Regions from separate parts of the Homo sapiens genome. Here all the other regions are linked to region 1. The links come from fine-mapping of genetic effects on gene expression. A gene starts in region 1. Each other region holds a variant in brackets. All regions are shown on one strand. Distances are between the middles of the regions.

Evidence for each region. PIP is the estimated chance that this variant, and not a neighbour inherited with it, causes the effect.
Region 2: its variant is the best candidate, but not a certain one, in a credible set for the expression of STEAP3 in T cells (TOPMed, PIP 0.77).
Region 3: its variant is the best candidate, but not a certain one, in a credible set for the expression of STEAP3 in whole blood (GTEx, PIP 0.55).
Region 4: its variant is the best candidate, but not a certain one, in a credible set for the expression of STEAP3 in cerebellum (GTEx, PIP 0.67).
Region 5: its variant is the best candidate, but not a certain one, in a credible set for the expression of STEAP3 in lung (TOPMed, PIP 0.58).

What each region holds. Positions count from the first base shown.
Region 1 is chr2:119,221,419-119,225,534 of GRCh38, reverse strand. STEAP3 (STEAP3 metalloreductase) reads right to left here and starts at 1,701. Exons shown (of 6, transcript NM_182915.3): 1 at 1,647-1,701. RefSeq lists silencers at 1,049-1,118, 1,179-1,958.
Region 2 is chr2:119,256,945-119,261,060 of GRCh38, reverse strand. All of the region lies in intron 5 of STEAP3 (STEAP3 metalloreductase), which reads right to left. Among named protein-coding and RNA genes, the nearest start is that of STEAP3-AS1, 9.9 kb to the right of the region's middle. RefSeq lists an enhancer at 872-1,645. The variant C/T (reference allele first, on the strand shown) is at 2,176.
Region 3 is chr2:119,280,235-119,284,350 of GRCh38, reverse strand. It overlaps a transcript of C2orf76 not described here. Among named protein-coding and RNA genes, the nearest start is that of STEAP3-AS1, 33 kb to the right of the region's middle. The variant T/C (reference allele first, on the strand shown) is at 1,533.
Region 4 is chr2:119,178,218-119,182,333 of GRCh38, reverse strand. All of the region lies in intron 2 of LOC107985941 (a long non-coding RNA gene), which reads left to right. Among named protein-coding and RNA genes, the nearest start is that of C1QL2, 22 kb to the right of the region's middle. The variant C/T (reference allele first, on the strand shown) is at 1,974.
Region 5 is chr2:119,060,365-119,064,480 of GRCh38, reverse strand. No RefSeq gene overlaps it. Among named protein-coding and RNA genes, the nearest start is that of C1QL2, 96 kb to the left of the region's middle. The variant A/G (reference allele first, on the strand shown) is at 1,645.

The DNA.
Region 1 (4,116 bases):
AGGCTGGAGAGGGAACATGTGTGATCCCAGCTTGACCTGGCCTGGTCCTGGGGACCTCAGCAAACCTGGGGCAGGCTGTTCAACCCCCAGGTGGACAAGTGGCCCAGCCTGAGCTCCCTGCTGGCTCTGAGGCCAGCATTAGACTGTGTCACTTCCATACCTGCTGCCGGATTGCCTGGCTGAGGCCACCTGCTCCATTTAAGCCCCCTTCAGGACACTAGTGACACCATCTACCCCACCCCGCCCACTTACCCATTAGACATTCACTAAGCACCTGCTCCTTGCCAGCCCCTCTGCAGGCCACCAGGGACAGAGATGAGTAAGACATAGTCTGGGTCCTCCAGGTGCCCCTAGCTGATTCAGTCAGCTTCGGATGGGACTTGGGGATCTATATTTTTAACAAGCCTTGCAGGTGACTGAGAGGACACACCCAGGTGAGACCCTTTGGTTTTGTGGACCTTCTGGCTCTCAGCACTGTATTCTTGGGGCTGCCAGAATCCCCGTGAGGACACAGCCTGTTTCGCCCCAGTGGTAGGTTCCTCTGGGCTCCAAGTCAGATAACTCTGGGTTCAAATTCTACTTCTGCAACTTCCTAGCTGTGTATCCTTGCAAAATACGTGGACTCTCTGAGGCTGTTTCCCCATTTTTAACAAGAGATAATGGTGCCTTCCTGTTGTGAGGATTAACTGGGATATTGTGCTCAAAGCCCTTAGCAAGATGCCTGGCACACATAAATGGGAATATCTGCTGTTAATTATATTATGGCTGCACTCTGATGGACAGAAATACCTCCCTGGGGGCATTTCCAGAATCCCCACTTCTGGAGCCCATCTCTGAGGTGGCCCTGGATATTTGGGAGGCCTCTCTGTGCCCTCTGCCAGGGCTCCAGCGGGACCTTCCTGCTTCTCCCCACGGATCCGGCTTTCTGGTCCCCAAACCGCATATTATCTGGGCACACCCTCCCCTTCATTTACCCAGAGTGACCAAAGTTCCAACCACACCTCTCCGGGCAGCCTGTCCCCAAATTTCGGGGAAGTGGGCAGGAGGGGGAGCTTTGCCGGGCAGGAGGGGGAACTTTGCCAGGCAAGGGCTCCGCGGGCAGAGGCGGGCACTGGTGAGGCCAGCCTCCTCCTGGGGACCAAGGTCGGGCGCCCCTGCCCAGCCCCTGCACCTGCCCCTGTCCCTGCCCTGTTCGGCTGCGAAGGGACTGGGAGGTCTGGCGAGGAAGAGCCTGGAAGATCCCCGCCCACAGCTACCAGCCCTCCTTTGGGACCGCTGGCCAGAGCCCCAGCCGTGGGGCACACGGGACCTGTGGACTCAGCCGGGGTCATCCGGAGGGGCGCCCACATCTGCACCCGGGGCTCCGGAGCCTGCTCCCCGCCACTGTCGCCGCCGGCCCTGCCTAACCTGCGCGGCGCAAGCGGCTTCCACGCCTAGGGAAGGAAGGCACACGGGGTGGGGGCCCCGGAACCCGGTTTCTCTGCCGCCGGGCGCACGTGGCTCGGTCCCAGGGGACAGAAGTCGCCTCCAGACGTGTGGCGGCACCCGAGGTCCGCGCAGCGACGGCGCAGGGTGCAACCGGGCGGGCGTCTCGGGGACCGGGCGCAGCACGCAGCCCCGCGGAGACCGGGGGAGGGTACACTCACCTCTGCGGCCCGCCGCTCGGAGCGACCGCGGCAGCTGAAGGTCCGCGGCGAAGGCGGTGGCTCGGCCCGAGGCTCCTCCTCCCCCGCGCCCCACCCGCCCGGGAGGGCCGGACCTGCAGGGGAGGTGGCCGCCCTCCAGCCCGCCGCAGCTTATCCGGCTCGGCCACCTCCCCCGGGGCCGCAATCAGGAGCCGCCGGGTCCTCGCTCCCCGCCCAGCCCTGCACAGCCCCGGCAGCGGTGGCAGCGTCCAACCACCCTCCTCCCCTGGCCCCAGGCGGGAGGTCGCCAGCCGGCGCCAACACTTCCTGATTTGCAGTGCCCGGCACACGGCTGAAGTGAGCAGAACTCCGGGACCTCCTCTTAACCCGGCCACGGAGGGCACCGAGGCCAGGGTGACCTCTAGGCCCCCCTCTCTTAACCTGAGGAGCACCTCGAATCCTTGTCCATTTTATAACCGAGGCCAAGTGGCAGCCACGGTTGCAGGTGGGAAGAGACCAGGGCTCCAGATTGGGTCCGGATCCCTTCCCTCTCAACAAGGTTGCGCCCAGGCCTTTGTGGTCCCCCCCCAATCTCTGTCCCTTGTCCACCCTTAGGGCAGACTTTTGACCCTTCCCAGCAGTCCTCAGGTTCCAAGACCGGTGGGATGGCGGGTACCTTTCTCCCGGAGCTGCCTCCCTGTCTAGGCCTTCTGGGCTCTGAAACCCTACCCGTCCCCCCTTCCCCCTGGGGCACTGCCCGCTGCCCTCCGCACTTCCAATGCCGATGGCTTCACAGCACTGCAGCGAAGCAGGGCGTAAGTAAGGGGAGGCTGTCTGTGGGCACCTCTCTAGAGGTGTGCGCCCTGGTCCGAAGCCCCTTCTCACCTGTGGTCACATTTGCCGGCTGCAGTTATTTTCTTTACAGGTGAGGAGACCCGGGCTTTTCCGCTCAGATTCGTGGAGGCTGAGTGGGGGTTCCTGACCCCTGGTACTCTTTCTAGAGTATTCCTGGGAGACATACACTATTAGCCTCTGATAAGGAGCTTCAGGTTATTTTTAGGAAGTCTAAGAATCCTGTTTTCTGGGGAGCCAGCCTCTGTTGGGGAGATAAGCCTCCGGAGGCCAGAGGCAGGAGCTGGGCCTCAAGGAAGGCCCCACAACTGGACCCCAAAGGGCACGGTGGGGAGGAAGAGGCAGAGCTCTGGTCTCCCTGTGGAGGGAGTGCTGCTGTAAAGCGCCTTTCCCTCCACCCCCAACTCCCGCCGAGAACCCCCCCACCCCCGCAGGCAGTTTGCTTTCCCCCTCCACAGCTTTCCTCCTACCCGAATACCCACCTCCCAGCTCTCTGCTCAGCCAGGGCCCAAGGCCAGAGCCTCTCTTCTCTTGCAAGAACTTTCCTGTCCCACCTTGCCCCAGGGCAACACCTCTTATGGCAATTCTTACAGGTCCTTTATCCATTCAACACTCACAGTGCCCCAGGTGCCAGACAGTGCTCCCAGTGCTGGAGACACACGTGCCCAATGGAGGTTCCTGCCCTTAGGGTGCCAGGGCTGGTGAGTGGCCCCTGCAGTGGGTTGTAAACTTTGAGAAGACAAGACCCAGTTCCTAGCCCCCTCTGGTGCCCCTAATATGCTCCCCCTGCAGTAGCTGTTCTTTTGATGCCTGCTCCTGCTGATGGGGATGGCTGAATAGCCTTCCTTTAATGCCCAAGGACAGCACAAGGAAACCGAGCTTGGGAAATGCAAACACTGAGAGGTCTTCCAGCATCTTTGGAAGAATCCCTGGGAACCAGTGTCTTTTTGTGGGGCTCTCCATGCATGAGTAAGAGAGAGGAAGACTTTTTTTTGAGGCGGGGAAGCGGGGCTCTCCATGAGTAAGAGAGACAGGGGGAGACATTTTGAAGGCTGGGCTGCCAGAGGTCTATAGAGGATTATCTTAAAAGGAACATGAACTCCTGCTGGAAAAAGTAGAGGGGTCTGAAATTTCTCACAGACAGGGAGGGAGGTGAATACCCTACTTGGGCCCACACACTTTGGCAGAGAGGCCACCGCCCACGCCGTTGACCTTTGGTGCTTGTTCTGTCCACTGACCGTTGGACTAAGGGGGCCTTGAGTGTGAGCTTGTCTCACCTGGCATGGGGTCAGGTGTTTCCAGAAGCTTGAGAGCCAAATTTCCCAAAGCAGACGAGCCCTTTCCTACTCCAGGGAGGAGTGCAATGTGCTGAGCTTTGTTGAGCACCTTCTATGGGCCAGACTCTGGTGTCCTCTGCCAAGGATAGAACAGTCAGAGCCATCCTTGCAAGATGTTTGCCAGATCGCATTTCTCCTCTGCTCAAAACTCTACCCCCTCCCCCAGCAAAAGTAAAGTCCTTGCAATAGCCGTGGCCCAGTGTGATTGGCCTTCTCTCTGCCCTCATCCTCTGTCTCCCTCTCTCTGCTCACATTCAGTCCCACCTCAGATGAATCTGACAGGATCCTGACCCCTGCCGTTC
Region 2 (4,116 bases), 36 kb before region 1:
TGCTAAAGATAATAATAAACATTTTCCAATGGCTGCACACTACAATTTCACAGACAGGTTCTCACGTTCAACATTCTTGGGCCCAAGTAAAATAACCAAATAAAACCTTCTCTATCCTTCCTCACCCTCTCTGGTTCTTCTTGGCTTTGTGTCCATTTTTGGAATCTTCTTGGCCCAGTCTTTAACAACTTCTGGCTCACCACGAAGAGTGAGGAAGCCACGATTGGCTTTATGCTGTCACCCACAGTGAATTCCTATCATTTTAATGTGGTCACCTCCCAAAGAGAAGACTCCTTGACTGTCAGTTGCACATAAGCAAATCCTTGCCACTTCCAGAAGTGTCTGTCAAGAATTCCAAATCCCCTGCAACTTCTGAGCCACCCCAACTTTTCTAAATTCTAATCTCTTAGTGTGGAAGACTGTGGTTAAAAAAGTCCCCAGCACTGACCATCAAGAATAAGTCTTGGCTGGGTGCGGTGGCTCACGCCTGTAATCCCAGCACTTTGGGAGGCCGAGGCGGGCAGATCACCTGAGGTTGGGAGTTCAAGACCAGCCTGACCGACATGGATAAACCCCGTCCCCGTCTCTACTAAAAATACAAAATTAGCCAGGTGTGGTGGCGCATGCCTGTAATCCCAGCTACTCGCTTGAACCCAGGAGGTGGATGTTGCAGTGAGCCAAAATCACGCCATTGCACTCCAGCCTGGGCAACAAGAGTGAAATTCCGTCTCAAAAAAAAAGAAAAAAAAAAAAAAGAGTAAGTCTTGAAGTCAATCACCCTGATGTTCCCCAGCCAGGTGCCCAGCCCTAACTAACTGTGGGCCCTCCCACCCCTCCTCATTGTGGACTTATTGGTGTTGCCAAGATGGCTGGGTGATGCCCTTTATCCCCAAGAGTTTAACAGTCTGTGGCTTTTAGACTGTGGTTTTCAAACCTTGCTACACATTAGAATCACCCGGGGAGCTTGGGTAAAATACTAGTGCCCAAACCCCACTTCCAGAAATTCAGATTAAGTTGGTTTGGGGCGGGGCATCTGTTGTTTTTTAAGGTTCGGCGGATGAGGCTGATGGGCAGCTAGGACTAAAGCCACTCATTTAGGAGACTGTCGTCACCACACCCTTCTAGCTTCAGGGTGAAAAGTCCACACGGGCCCCTCTGCTCAGGTCACTTGCCTGAGGAAGACCTGGACCTATCTGTTCCTTAGACAAAGCCCCACTGAGAGCCTTTTGGCGCCCACCTCTGTGTCGTGGGCTTTCCCAGGAGGTGCAGCAATGGGAGCCCATCCAGGCCTGGAAAGCCAGCCTTAGTAGCCCCAGTGAGGTCTTTGCATCTCCCTCGGGTGACATGCCCTGTAGCTCCAGTGTTTGGTCTGTGTGGGCCACTGTCCCCAGCCCCTGATCTGGAGAGTGATGAATTTTGCTGGGCACTCTGGGCTCTGCACAGGGACAGTGTGGAGACGCTGCTCCCAGGCCCACCAGTGGCAGTCAGCTCCTCCTGTTCATATAGCCTCATTCTTGTGCCATTCAAAATCCCATGGTGCAGACAGCAGGAAGTTCCAGCCTCAGGCCAGTGGTTCATAGCAAGGGCTGACAGCCAAAGGCCAGCCAATAACAAAGGGCCTTTGACTTTCCTGTCCCAGTGGGAAGCCTGCATGATTCCAGGGAGTTTGTTTCCCAAAAACTCTCCTTGGGAACAATTTAAAAATCCCAGAACCCAAAGAAGCCCAAAAGGAGAGGGATTGTCATGAGGCGATTAATAAGATCCCCAAGCTAGAGCCATTTTTATTATACGTAAGCTTGTTAGCAAAAAAGAAACAGCCAGGTCGTTGTAGCTCCTGCTGGTGCTCAATTACTACGGCACAAAGGGGCTTTGGACAATTGCTCATGAAGCTGGGGTCAGGCTGGTCTTGTCATTATTTCAGGCAGGTGGCTGGAGTGGGCAAGGTCACAGGCAGTTCCTCTAACTCTGGGAAAGAACTTAGGTTCTAAAAGCTGAACCCTCATTTTTCTGCGCAGGTGAGCTGCTCTGACTGGAGTATTTTGCAGTCTAATATCTAACAGCCAGTTAAAACTGGCTGAATTGAAACACTTAGCACAACCCAAACCAAACCAAAACAATAACAAAAAAATACCAAAGGAAGGCTGGGTGCGGTGGCTCACGCCTATAATCCCAGCA[C/T]TTTGGAAGGCCGAGGCAGGCGGATCATGAGGTCAGGAGATTGAGACCATCCTGCCTAACACGGTGAAACCCCATCTCTACTAAAAATACAAAAAAAAAAAAAAAAAAAAATTAGCCAGGTGTGGTGCCGGGCGCCTGTAGTCCCAGCTACTTGGGAGGCTGAGGCAGGAGAATGGCATGAACCCGGGAGGCAGAGGTTGCAGTGAGCCGAGATTGTGCCACTGCACTCCAGCCTGGGTGACGGAGTGAGACTCCGTCTCAAAAAAAAAAAAAAAAAAAAAAAAAAAATACCCAAAGGAACACAAAACAACATGTAAAACTTTGAAAACAGATTTGGGAACAAAAGGATAAATGCAAGCACAAGTCACCTCTTTGTGGAATCAATACACTGTTTCAATGGTTTTTAGCTAAACGAAGTGTCTGAGGTGTTCAAACCAGAGAGACTTCACCTGAATGGGGGGCTGGGTAAAATGAGGCTGAGACCTACTGGGCTGCATTCCCAGGAGGTTAAACGTTGCTAGTCACGGGATGACATAGGAGGTCGGCTCAGGATACAGGTCATAAATACCTTGCTGATAAAACAGCTTGCAGTAAAGAAGCCAGCCAAAAGCACCAAAACCAACATGGCAACGAGAGTGACCTCGTTGCTCATTATACACTAATTATAATGCATTCGCATGTTAAAAAACACTCCCACTAGCGCCATGTCAGTTTACAAATGCCATGGCAATGTCAGGAAGTTACCCTATATGGTCTAAAAAGGTAAGGAACCCTTAGTTCTGGGAATTGCCATCCCTTTCCTGGAAAACTCATGAATAATCCACCCCTCGTTCAGCATATAATCAAGAAGTAACAATAAGTATAAGCAGCTGAGCAGCCATGCCGCTGCTCTGACTATGGAGTAGCCATTCTTTTATTCCTTTGCTTTCTTAATAAACTTGCTTTCACTTTACTCTATGGACAGGTCCTGAATTCTTTCTCGCGTGAGGTCCAATAACCCTCTCTTGGGGTCTGGATCGGGACCCTTTTCCGGTAACAAAAGCATTACAGATCTAGGGGTCAGCCAAGGCCCCTCAAGAACCATGGCTGTCCCCATAGCCTGGTGTCTGCTGTGGACATGTGTGTAGGGGAGGGTGATGGGGCTCAGGTAACTTCTCACTAGCCACGCTAACTTTAAAGGAGAAGGTTGCAGCTTACCTCAAAAGCCAGCATGCCACTGTTGGCTGCACGCATCCTGCATTTAACGTGTCCAGCTCAAATCCTCTTGATGACCATATGGGGTGGACACAGGCACAAGTGAGCAGCAGAAGCTCCGAGGGCCTAGGAAACTTGTCTGATGATGCGGGGCAGGTAAGTGGGGGTCTTGGGACTGAGATTCAGGTCTTCGGGTTCCACTGCCTGTGTTTCCTGCACTGGAAGTTGCCACACACTGCGGCATGCGCACCTATCAGTCACTTAGGGAGCTGCAAAAATAGATTGCCAGAGCCATCCCTCAGCATCTGAGTCCACGGATGGGAGGCAGGCCTGGGTTATCTCTGTTTCTCCAAGAGGGCTCTGGCTTCAGCCTATTTGACAGGGACTCACAGTAAGAACCATGTTTTACTCTGCTGTCCGGTAGACAACGAGGTATGCTACATTTGCAAATAAAACTAGCAATTCCATATAACTGAAAAAGTATCCCGACACCATGCAAAACACTCCACTGTTTTCTTTGTCATTCTATTTTATTTCATTTTTAAAATGCTGCTTGTGATCCATGGAATCAATTGCATGACCCACTAGTGAGTGTCCGCCAGTTTGCAAACACTGACTGGACCACTTTTAGGCCCAGGGTTGGGGTTCCTTGGCCTCTGTCTCACTGTCTCCTACTGAACTCAGAAATCGGTGGTTGGTACCTTAGTCAGAGATAATGGAAATGTGGCCAGATACCCTAAGAATAAT
Region 3 (4,116 bases), 59 kb before region 1:
AAAATTAGCCTACTTATGCCTTTGTGGTGTGTCAGCATTGAATATTGGGGTGTCGGCCAAGTGCTTAGCCAGGAGCCTGTCTGCGGCATGGCTCAGCCAGGCGGGATGTGACATTCCCTCGTGGTCAGTGAGGCATGCTGTCCTGGCTATGACGATTGGGAGGATGTGAAACTGAAGCTGGGTGCTGGCGAATCATGGAGGCAGCTGGGAACCTCAGTGTCTCAGGCTCAGTTCCTCAGCTGGGAATGAGAAAAGGGTGTGGCTTAGGAGAGGGGTAAGCCTGATGTCTAAAACCGCTTTCCTCTCATGGGTGAGCAAGTTGAAAAGCCAGATTCTACCAGGGAGGTGGCACAGGACGCCTTGGCTGTGCTCCCGGATGTGTGGGGCTGTTTCATCACACAGTTGCATGGGACTTGCTTGTGTGCTCAACTTTCCGGGATGTCCTGAGACTGGACTTTCCAGTTTCCAAGATTCAGTCCCATTGTCAAAGCCTAATATCTGATTTTTTGATTTGATTATATGGTGTAGAGAAGTGGAAAAATCCTCAAGTTTGGGTCATTAAACATTGTAAAATAGGGCCAGGTGCAGTGGCTCACACCTGTAATCCAAGCACTTTGGGAGGCTGAGGCGGTTGGATCATTTGAGGTCAGGAGTTCAAGACCAGGCTGGCCAACATGGTGAAACCCCATCTCTACTAAAAATACAAAAATTAGCTGGGCGTGGTGGTGGGCGCCTGTAATCTCAGCTACTCCAGAGGCTGGGGCAGGAGAATCGCTTGAACTCAGGAGGCAGAGGCTGCAGTGAGCCAAGATGGCGCCACTGCACTCCAGCCTGGGCAACAGGGCCAGACTCCCTCTCAAGAAAAAAACAAAAACAAAAACAAAAAAACCAAAAGAACCATTGTAAAATAGAAATGGATATGGGGAAGAGAGAGGGGGAGAAGGCAAAGCAGGAAGGAGGAGGCAGGAAGGGCAGAGCTGGCACCAAGGCAGGCCCTGGGCTGGATGCCCAGGAGTGTGGGCAGAGGGGGTGCAGCACTGAGAGGCGGACTGGAAGCTTCCATTGCCAAGCTCATGACAAAGAATGGGAGGCAGGGAGGAGGCCCACAGATCTTGCTGAGTGCTAAGCGCCTGCACCCCTGCCCCGAGCTACACCTTGGTGCCACTGTTGACAGTCAGCCCAAAGCCTCCAGGGAGATGTTCACCAGTGTCTCTCAGGGACTTGGGCTTCCTTCCCACCAAGGAAGAGGGAGAGAGACTAGGGCTGCCCTCCACTGTGAAGGACCCTGCTAATTATTCATGACATCCCCGCAGAGTGGCTGGACTGCCACAGCTTCCCCTGTGCCCATCCTCAAAGACAGCCTCAGAAGTGGACATCCGTCTTTCAGGAGGGGCTTAGAGGAGCTCTCCCAAGGACGAGCATGTTGTTTCCCCCCGCAGCCTTGAGTTTTGAAGAGTGAAGCGGGGGTGGTTAGTGATTCTAGGTTTAATGCTTCCACCCGATTGCCCATTTCATCACACTCCTCAGTATTA[T/C]GACATTTGGATTATTTTTTAATCTTCTCTTCCCCTTTTTGTTGTTCTGCTGTTGAACCGATTATGCAGAACTGTGTGTTGATGTCTCTGTGGCACCTTCCCTCCAGGGATGCAGCTCTGTTTTCCAAACACCCCGCTTAATCCTCTTAGGAGGGAGGATGCACCGGGGTGCTCACCCTGTCCGTCAGGGCCGGCAGAGACGGACGCTTTACAGGTGTTTGTTAACCTGGACCATGCTGGACGGGAGGCTTGGAGGCACCAAGATGCCAAATCTCTTACCCATCCCTCCAGCCAGGCGTCTCAAGTGGCTAAAGAATAAATGCATGAAAATTAAGAGCCAGCTCTGCCTGCGAAAGAGAACAGGAGCAAGCTGGCTGTTGGCTGTCATCTGGAGTCACCTACTGGGAAGTGCCGAATCACCCCAGACCAAGGACAGGAAGGAGGCTTGGTGAGTGACAGTCCCACCCTGGCAGCGCCATGAACAGCAGTTCAAAGTGAAAACAGACTCCCTGCATCAGAGCCGACCTATTGGTATAAGAGATTTCACTTGCAGCCCAGCGGCGTTTGTGATAAATAGATCCACATAGGATTGCCTGGTTTCATTTTTCATGTATGTGGGCTTCTCGGGACACCTCTCACTTTCCCAACTTTTTATATCTTTTTTTTTTTCTTTGAGACGGAGTCTGGCTCTGTTGCCCAGGCTGGAGTGCAATGGCATGATCTCGGCTCCCTGCAACCTCCACCTCCTGGATTCAAGTGATTCTCCTGCCTCAGCCTCCCGAGTAGCTGGGATTGCAGGCGTCCACCACCACACCTGGCTACCAATTTTTATATCTTAATGGCCTTTCCAGAACTTTCCAGAACATGTACAACATGCTCCTAGTGGGCCTGGGGATGGTTGAGGGTGGGTAGCGCAGTAAGACAGTTACTGTTACTTCAGTTTTCTTTCAGGTCTTCTGGTTGAGTGAGGAAGAGGTTTCAGTTTGGTGATGGCAACGTCCTTAAGACTTCACTTGCTTCCCTCTCTCTGTTCTTTTGAGAGCGGGTCTCCACCAAGCATTTTAGCAGGTAAAAAATCTAGCTAGAATTTAATCATATTATTTTGTTTTTATTTATTTTGAGGTTGTAACTGCTTTAAGGTCTTATAGCCAGTAATAACGGTTTCCTATTCATGTTAGGATGTTTATTTAGCAAACGCTTATATAGCACTTACTCTGTGGAAGATCTGTTTTAAATACCTTAAAAAGAGAAACTGTTTTTTCTCTCTCTGTCATTCTCATTCTCTCTCTCTCTCTCTTTTTATTTTCTTTGTGGTAGGGTCTCACTCTGTCACCCCAGGCTGGAGTGCAGTGGCAGGATGGCAGCTCACTGCAGCCTCGACCACCCTGGCTCAAGCTATCCTCCCACCTCAGCCTAAGAGAAACTCTTGGAACGGAAAACCAAATACCACATATCCTCAGTTATAAGTGGGAGCTAAATGATGAGAACACGTGGACACAAAGAGGGGAACAGCAGACACCGAGGCCTACTTGAGGGTGGAAGTTGGGAGGAGGGAGAGGAGCAGAAAAGATAACTTTTGGGTACTGGGCTTAATACCCGGGTGATGAAATAATCTGTACAACAAACCCCCATGAGATGAGTTTTCCTGTGTAACACCGAACCTAAAATAAAAGCTAAAAATAAAATTAAGTTAAAAGAGAAGCTGTCATTTTTCTCATAACCTAATTACAAACCTATGTGGTAAGAACTATAATCACCCTCATTTTATAGCTGGGGAAACTGAGGCAAGAGGAGGTTAAATCGGGTTAGGAAGTAGTAGAAGTGGTGCTGAAACCCTGGCAGTGTGGCTCCAGATTTTGTGTTCCTTTTTTTTTTTTTACCATTTTTTTTTAGAGATAGCGTCTTGCTGTCAGCCAGGCCGGAGTGCTGTGGTGCAATCATGGCTCACTGCAGCCTTGACCTCCTGGACTCAAGTGATCCTCTCAACTCAGCCTCCTGAGAAGCTGGAACTACAGTTGTGCACTACCAGCTTGAGTAATATTTTAAAAAAATTTTTTGTAGAGATGGGGTCTCACTATGTTGCCCAAGCTGGTCTTGAACCCCTGGACTCCAGTGATCCTCCTGCCTCCCGGATTCCTGTGATTACAGGCCTGAGTCCCCATGTCTGGCCTGGATTTTGTGTTTTTAACCTCTGTGCTATGCTGCCTCTCCATAGGGAACATTAAAAATTAATGTTTTCAGGCCGGGCGCCGTGGCTCACGCATGTAATCCTAGCACTTTGGGAGGCCAAGGCAGGTGGATCACCTGAGGTCTGGAGTTCGAGATCAGTCTGGCCAACATGGTGAAACCCCATCTCTACTAAAAATACAAAAATTAGCCAGGTGTGGTGGTGGGCGCCTGTAATTCCAGCTACTCCAGAGGCTGAGGCAGGAGAATCGCTTGAACCCGGGAGGTGGAGTTTGCAGTGAGCTGAGATCGCACCATTGCACTCCAGCTTGGGAGACAGAGCGAGACTCCGTCTCCAAACAAACAAACAAACAAACAAACAAACAAACATTTTCAGGGAAAACAAGTGAGTAGATTT
Region 4 (4,116 bases), 43 kb after region 1:
GGGTGCCCTTGCCACCCCTAGCCAGCGCTCAGGGCCACAGAGAAGGTCCTGGCTGCTCTGCCGAGTGCCCCGGCTCCCAGCCTGCAGTCTGTGTACTCCAGAGTCCTTGCTGCCCTGGAGGCTGAGTCCAGAGCCCGGGCTCTGGGCAGCTGCTGCGGAGGGCCCACTTCCCTGGAGCAGGGCAGGAGCAGCGCCGGGCCCAGCCAATGCGAGACCAAAGCCCTCAGGATTTGCTACGTTGAGCATTGAGCTCAGAGCTGACAGATGGAGTCAGATGGGCAAACTAATTATATTTTTCATTTTTTTTCTTGGACATTTGTGAGTCTGCAGGAGCTTAATTTATGTATTAATTACACCTCAGAGCTAAATGAGGGGGCTGGAGTGCCTCCAACAGCCTTTGCATTTTATTAGGAAATGTTGCACACATACTTGCCTTCCTAAGGAAATAGCTACTAAAGCTTCCCTCTGAGGAGCTCTGTGGGCCTTGAGGAAACAGAACTCTTCAGCCGCTCAGGTGGGGGCCCAGGTGGAACACTTCAGGCCAGCCTTCGCTTCAGCCTGTGGGCTGACGTTAGAACCTTCAGATTCATCTTCCTCCCCTCACCTGCGGCAGCAACTCCACTGAAGGGAAGCAGTCCCCTCACTGCACCCGCAAAGCCCCAGCCCCCTCAACTGCTGCGTGGGTTTCCCCTGATCAGCTCTGGCGTGGTTGTGTTGCACTGAGCCGCTGTCTCCAGGCCGAGGCCCAGCAGTGAGGCCGGGGACCTGTTTATAGGGCCTGGGGCTTCCAGAAGGGAGTGACTCCCAGTTGGGTCCCCCATCTGTGAGCCAGACACCTGAGGACAGGCCTCTCTCAGGTAGGTGGAAGGAGAGAGGGTCTGGCTTTCTCTCTTGAGCCTGGACTTGGCGGGGTCTGGTAGTCTTGGTGTGGAACTTGGCCAGTGCCCAGGAGGCTGGGCTGGGTCAGGTGGGGCCTTTGTAAAGGCCAAGAAGTTGGCAGGAGGAAGACCATTCTTGTGTGAGCCAGGCCCTAGAGCCTAGGGCTCCTTAATCTCCCCTTTCTTGTCCTCCAGTTCTTTATGAAATCTTGTCTACAGCTGCTGTGCTGCTGGCCTGTGTTGTGGGGGTGGGAATATGGAGAAAGTATCTGCTGTCTACTCTTTGGCCAGTTTTCCTGAGGGAAGCAGCACCCAAGGCCTCAGGCTGGGCGTTGCTGCTATCACGGTGATTGCCAGAGGAAAGGATGGAGGGAAGGCCTTGGGGCGGAGCAGCACCCTCCCCGCTCTGAGCAGGCCTGAGAGTCCATGTCTAAAGGAAGCACTTCTTTAAAAGGGCTCAGGAAAGGCCCCAAGGCTCTCTAGTGCCTACGGGCTGGCAGACAGCTGCCTGGCAACAGCAGGTATCTAACTGGTGTGCTGGCCATGGGCTGATGGTGGACCTGCCTTCTGCACCTGTTTGGGGGGTCACTATAGGGCAGGCCTGCTTTACACAGCAGGTGAAGACTGGTCAACATTGTCACGCTGAGAAGTGACTCTCAGTGGTGAGTTCAGGGGAATGTTGATATTTGTGAGTGCTTTAGGAAGAGGAAGGAACATGGGCACATCCACTGAATGTGATCTTTCTGGGGGCAGGTATTTTTGCCTGCTTTGTTCACTTTATTCTTTCTTTCTGTTTTTTTTTTCTTTTTTCTTTTTTCTTTTTGACTTGGAGTTTTGCTCTTATTGCCCAGGCTGGAGTATACTGACGAGACCTCGGTTCACTGCAACCTCTGCCTCCCGGATTCAAGCGATTCTCCTGCCTTAGCCTCCCGAGTAGCTGGGATTACAGGCACCTGCCACCATGCCCAGCACATTTTTGTATTTTTAGCAGAGACGGGGTTTCACCATGTTGGCCAGGCTGGTCTCGAACTCCTGACCTCAGGTGATCTGCCCACCTCAGCCTCTTAAAGTGCTGGGATTACAGGCGTGAGCCAC[C/T]GTACCCGGCCTGTTCACTTTATTCCAAGAACCTAGAAAAACACCAGGCACACAGCAGGTGGCCGTAATGTGCCAGCAGGAGGTAGTCTGAGGAAAGTTGACTATAGCTGCTCCCAAATCATTTTTGCGGCAAAGCTGACAGACAGGTGGCCGATGAGTCTCAGGGGTGTCTTAGCATATTTTGTGATGCTGTAACAGAGTACTGCAGGCTGAGTCATTTATGAAAAAATAACAGTTCATTTGTCTCGTGGTTCTGGAGGTTGGGAACTCCACCACTGGAGGGCCATGTCTGGTGGGGCCTTACATGGGGGAAAGGGAGAGAAGGAATGGGGCCACATTCAATTTTATAACCAACCCACTCTCATGATAATGAGCCCGCTCCTGCGATGAGGACAAATCCATTCGTGAGGGCAGAGCCCTCGTGACCCACGTACCTCTTAAAGGTCCCCCTTCTCAACACTGTTGCATTGGAGGCCTTTGGGGGATGCCTTCAAACCATAGCAGAGACACTTTTCTGCCTGCCCAAAGTCACATAGCTCATTAGAGGCCAGGTTGGGCCTGGAGTCTCTGGCAGGAATAATAGCTGAACTTTCATTCATTCCCTAACCCACCTGTGTTGTGAGGGCCCTGAGGCCAGCATGTTCATGGCTGCAGCCTCCAACCAACTGAGCTAATTGACAAGAAATCTGCTCTGCCTGATGCTATGGGGGATACTCAGATTTTCTGTGCCCCTAAGATGACCCAAAGCGTGGACATGCTTATTAGTGGGATTCTATCCCCTCAGTGAAGTTTTTGGTTCTTGCTTTTAATAATGGAGCAAGAGAAGCCAGTGGGAAGTCTGTTGACAAGGGAATGACTGCCACGTAGGCACTGGCAGGCTTTGGGTGAGGAGCTCAGCTTCCTGGTGTGGCCTGTGGCAAGCTCACCCTGGGAGGGGCTTGGAGTCTTGTGGATTTCATTCCTGACATTCCATCTGCTGTGCCTGCTACCAGCTGCCCTGCCAACCTGTCTGTGCCAGAAGAGTGTGGAAATAAGCTAGAACCCTTACACAGGGAGGTCCTGTTGTAGTCACTTAGTTATCAGCCCTCCCTCTATCTACTCGACTATAGGCCAAAAGCCCAGCCAGATGCTACCATGGGACCAGGCAGGGCCTAATGTTGCTGGATTCATCCTGGAATCAGTATCTGATCAGTCTTCACCTGGGGCAGGAGAAGGAGCCAGCTGTTGCCCTCTCTGCAAGAGGCAAGAAGCAGCGGGTCCTGACACCCTTCCCCGGAGGGCCCTTGGCTTGCAGGCACCTGGCATCTCCCAACATCTCTCTGGAGCCTCAGGCCAGCCTTCCCAAGATGGGATGCAAGGAGTCTGAGTGATCTTCCCGGAGAGGTGGCCAGCATGTTTGACAGAGCACTCCGGATCGAGGCTGTCCACATGCATTTGTCTCGTCCTTTTGCATTCAGCCAGGCCTGAGACAAGACTAACCCTTCCTGACAGAATCAGTTCAGCCTTGTCCTCTGAGCAGGGCCCAGGGTGGGCAGGGGATAGGCTGGGGCCAGCTGGGCTCTCTGGCCATTGCTGGCTGGTGGAGGACACACGGGGAGCCCTGATAGGCCCAGCAGACAGGGTCCAGCCCAGTGGACAGAGCAGGAGAGGGAGTTAGGGGGTCGGGGCAGAGAGTGGATGAAGCCTCTGCAGCATCTCCCAACCCCAGAGCCAAAGTAGGGAGGGGATCAGGCAGAGGGCCTGGTTTATTTTCTTCCATCTCCATCTCCATCCCTATCCCTATTCTGAGGCCCAATTTTCTCAGTTTTCCCAAAACTGAGGCCCACAGTTTTGGGAATCAGACTAGCCTGAGTTTGAATCCTGGGCACATGGAGCAGAGGGAAGGGGTCACGTGGCCTGCAGAGAGCCACGTAAGTATGGTAGTCTCCATTGTAAGTCTGCCCTGCCCACCCCAAATAGGCCTGCCCTTGGGCAGAATGCTCTCCCCTCTGCATTTGAATGATGCCCTGAAGTGTCCTGCTGCCAGTGCCTGGAAGGCCACCATCTATAGCCCACTGCCCATTTAGGCTTTGCCCTCCCCAGCCAATGAAGGAATTGGGCATTTGCAATGCTTATGAAAGCTCAGGGAGGGACCCCAGACTGG
Region 5 (4,116 bases), 160 kb after region 1:
TTGTGTTGCCTTCTACTAGTTCCTGAGATAAAATTCTTGGGCCTAAAATTGTATATATATCATACTTGGGCTGAACTGAGTAGAGGCATCTAAATCCAGTGGCAGAGCCATGGGAAGCAGTGGAGTGGGGTGAGGAGTGGAGAGGGATTAAAGCCACAGTAAGCAGAGATAGACACAGCTGGCTTTGAAGCTCAGCCCTGCCATCTGCTATGTATGAGGTTTATCAGTCACTCATCGAGTCTGAGCCTCAGGGTCTTTGTCTATAAAATGAAAATAATAGCACCAATGCAATGTTGCTTGTGATGGATAGATGAAATGGCACATGCAAAGTGAATACCCAGTACCTGAAACAGGATTAATAAAAGGTTATTGTAATTATTATTTATAATTATGCTACTGTTTATCAGAGGACTTTAGCACCTTGATTTACAGTCTGCCTGTATCAGCTAGCTATTGCAATAATAATGCTGCATAACAAACAACTCCAAAAGTCAGTGGCTTAAAAAAATAAGCATTTACTTTCACTCTTTTATTTGTAGGTTAGCTGAGTTCTGCTGAGCTCAGGCTCCACAGGTGATTCTAGGAATCTACTGGGTCCAGATCTGCTCCACAGGTCTTGGGCATGCCATTCTCATTGCAGCTGCAGGAGCACAAGAGGGCCAGCTTAAATATACCAGCATATTTCAAACCTCTGCCTGCATCATGTTCACCAGTGTATCTTTGGAGAAGAGAGTCACACAGCCAAATTCAAGAAGTGGAAAAATATACTTCACCTCTAGTGGGAGGAATTGCAAAATCACATGACAAAGAATGTGGACATAGGGAGGGTGAAGAATTAGGGCCAATTGCCCTATTTATCGCATCACTCTTCAACACCTCTGCTTTTCCACGAAGAATCATTTGGGATCATTCAGGGATAGAAAAATGGCTGTTGAGACCCAAGTCTCTTTTCCACTCTAGTTTCTTTCATCTCCATGTTCCTCCCAGCAATTCTTTTTCAGGGCTGTGACTTTGTGTTCCTTTCAAGGAGGGTCAGTCAAGCTTCTTTGATTGTAAGCCAAAGCAAACAACTCTTGCCATTCTATCAAAAAGGGAATCAAATGAAGGCTATCAGGCAGCTCAAAGACGTTCAGGAAGCTGGAGAACCAGGCTAAAAACAGAGCATATGACAGCAGGCCAGCTCTGGGGATCCTCGCAGCAGAACCTGCACAACTCTCTGCCAGGCACTGATGCTGGGGCAAGGGAGCTCCCACAAGGCTTTCCGACACTGTGTCTTTGGGCTCAGGATTCAAAGTCCTAAAAGAGAGTCTCATTGGCTTAACTCCTGTCTCTTGGTCAGGACAGGGTAGGGCACCACAGTTTATAGATTTCCAGCACTATCCAAAGTAGGAAATAGTGGCTTCCCAAAAGAAAGTCAGAATGCTATTAGGAAGAGAGAATGAGATAAGATGTCCAAAAAAAAAACCTGATGTCCTCTTTGTCAGACTTCCAAGCCAATGGTGTAACAGAAAGAGCCTTGGAGAGCTGACATGGGCTGGATTTTATCCACTACTCTGCCACTAACTTGCTTGGAACACCGAAAGCTGAATTCTGTGGATTCTTTCTTCACAAACACTTGTATGGCACTTAACGGTGTTGCAGGCA[A/G]TAATCTAAGAACTTGGCAAATATTAACTCAGCAGTCCCTGATCTCAAGGAGCCATTAGGGAGGACGGCAACTTACCTCATCTCACTGATTGGTTGTAAGGACTAAATAAACATGTGAAACATCTAGCAGAACTCCTGGCATGCAGATAATGTTAAAAAAAAATGCCAGTTGCCATCTCCCACCAATCCCCCACTTCCATCTTATGGAGAGCTCCATAAGACAGGAAACTGCCTGAGGTTTCAGGGACCATCCTGAGTTGATATTGACATTTAGGACAGCTCCCCATTTAATAGAACAGCCTGACCCCTCTGCCCACTGGAGTCCAATAGGAGGTTTGGGACATTGTAAGACATGCTAGCACATCTTCAGAGTGAACTGAGGTATGACCTCAGGGTGTCTGTTACGTCCATCTTCAGCATTTTCTCATGCCAGGGAAATTTGTTGCCTCCTTTCCTACGCTCTGAGCAGTGCCATACACATTCCAATGTGATGAAGGGAATGTTTCCTATTAGTGCTGTCTAGTATGGTAGCCAATAGCCACAGCTGGCTACTGAACCCATGAAAGAGGGCTAATTTTACTGAGGAAATGAATTTAAAAATTGAATTCAATTTTAATCTTTGAAATTTAAATAACCACTTGTGACTAGCAGCCACTGGATAGAGAGTGCAGCTAGAGCTGTTCGTGCTGTAGAATACACCTCAGGGGCTCTGACACCTGGGGTAGGGGCAGCCAGATGGTGCCTTTAGGGAAGGCTCACTGGCAATGTCTCACTTTCCACCCTTAGGAGGCTGCTTCAGAAGGGTCTCTGCTTTGACCATCTCCAGCCCTGGCCCCTGCTCCCCCCAACTCCTAGCAGCCCCCCCCACCCCCACCCCAGGGTGGAGCAGTCAGCTGACGACTTGGTTGGGGATCATCTTGCTTCAATTCTGCGGCTCAGTGTTCTCACAATCGACAGGCCCAAAAGTTAGTGGGGGTGAGATAAATGGGAGACACTTGGAGAAGATTTAATTAATCCGGGGTTTCAGTTCCCCCAGCGCAACTCATACCTTTACAGCCACCTGTCTCTTGGTTGCATTCACAGGTTGCATTTTACAGAAGAAGAACAACAACAAAAGTCCTCTATACACCAATAAGAAGAGCCAGGACCACAAAATGTGAAAGCTGAAGGGAACCTTCAAGAGCATCTGACTCAACATCCTTATTTTATGGGTGGGGAAATGGACTCATCCTAATTTTAGCATGGGTGTCTTAATCTGTTCCTACTGCTATAATAAAATACCTGAGAGTAGGTAATTTACAAATAACAGAAATTTATTTCTTACTGGTGGCTGGAAGTTCAAGATCAAGGTGCCAGCAGGTTTGGTGTGTGGTGAGGGCTGCTCTCTGCTTCCAGGATGGTGTCTTATTACTGCATCCTCTGGAGGGGACGAATGCTTTGTCCTTACATGACAGAAGGAAAAGAAAGATGAAAAGGGGCCTAGCTAGTTTCCTCCAGCCTTTTATAAGATGCTAATCCCATCTCTCATGGTATAATCACTTTCTAAAGTTCCCACCCCTTAGGATGGTTGTATTGGGGATTAAGTTTCAGCATGAATTTTGCAGGGGGCACAAACATTCAAAGGATAGCTGTGGACAAGCTGGGTGTTGGCCTCGCTGGTCTAGTCCTGCAGGATGGGCTGTGGGAAAGGAGACAGCCTTCCTCCCATAACTGAGCTGATGAAGCCAGAGGAAAAGGCCACAGGATCCCAAGAAAGGGAGCTGGGGGCACACCCACAGACACGTATCCAAGATCTGAGCAAGGGGTGGGGAGGAGAGCGGTGGGGTCCAGGCAGACAGAAAGCTGGGGCAGGTGAGGTCAGCCAGAGAGGGGTGGACCCACATTCTGGGCAATTAGCAGAGCACCCCTCAGGGCCCACCCAAAGACTCTCCTGGGTTGCTGGGGCCCATTTCTTTTTTCTTTTTTTGAGATTTTTAACAATAGTGAATATCATATGTGTTTGTTTATTTTTATTATACTTTAAGTTCTAGGGTACATGTGCACGAAGTGCAGGTTTGTTACATAGTTATACATGTACCACGTTGGTTGGCTGCACCCATCAACTCGTCATTTACATTAGGTATTTCTCCTAATGCTATCCCTCCCCCAACCCCCCACCCACCCACCGGCCCCGGTATGTGATGTTCTCTGGGGCCCATTTCTTGAACAGTCTGCATCTATTTTACAAACCCAAGAAGGAGCACAGGATTTTAAAAAGCAGTGAAAGGTAGTCATTCACAGAACCAGGACTCACTCCCATGTCCTCTGATTCCCCTCCCAGTCCTCTTTCCACCACTTCACCCTGGTGAAACAGGACACACATTTTGAAACAGCTTTTCCATCTAGAGTTATTTGACAGTATACACGATTATAATGTTAGGTATAATTACTTGGGCTTGTCTTACTAAGGGCCAGGAATGTGCTGATGGTTTC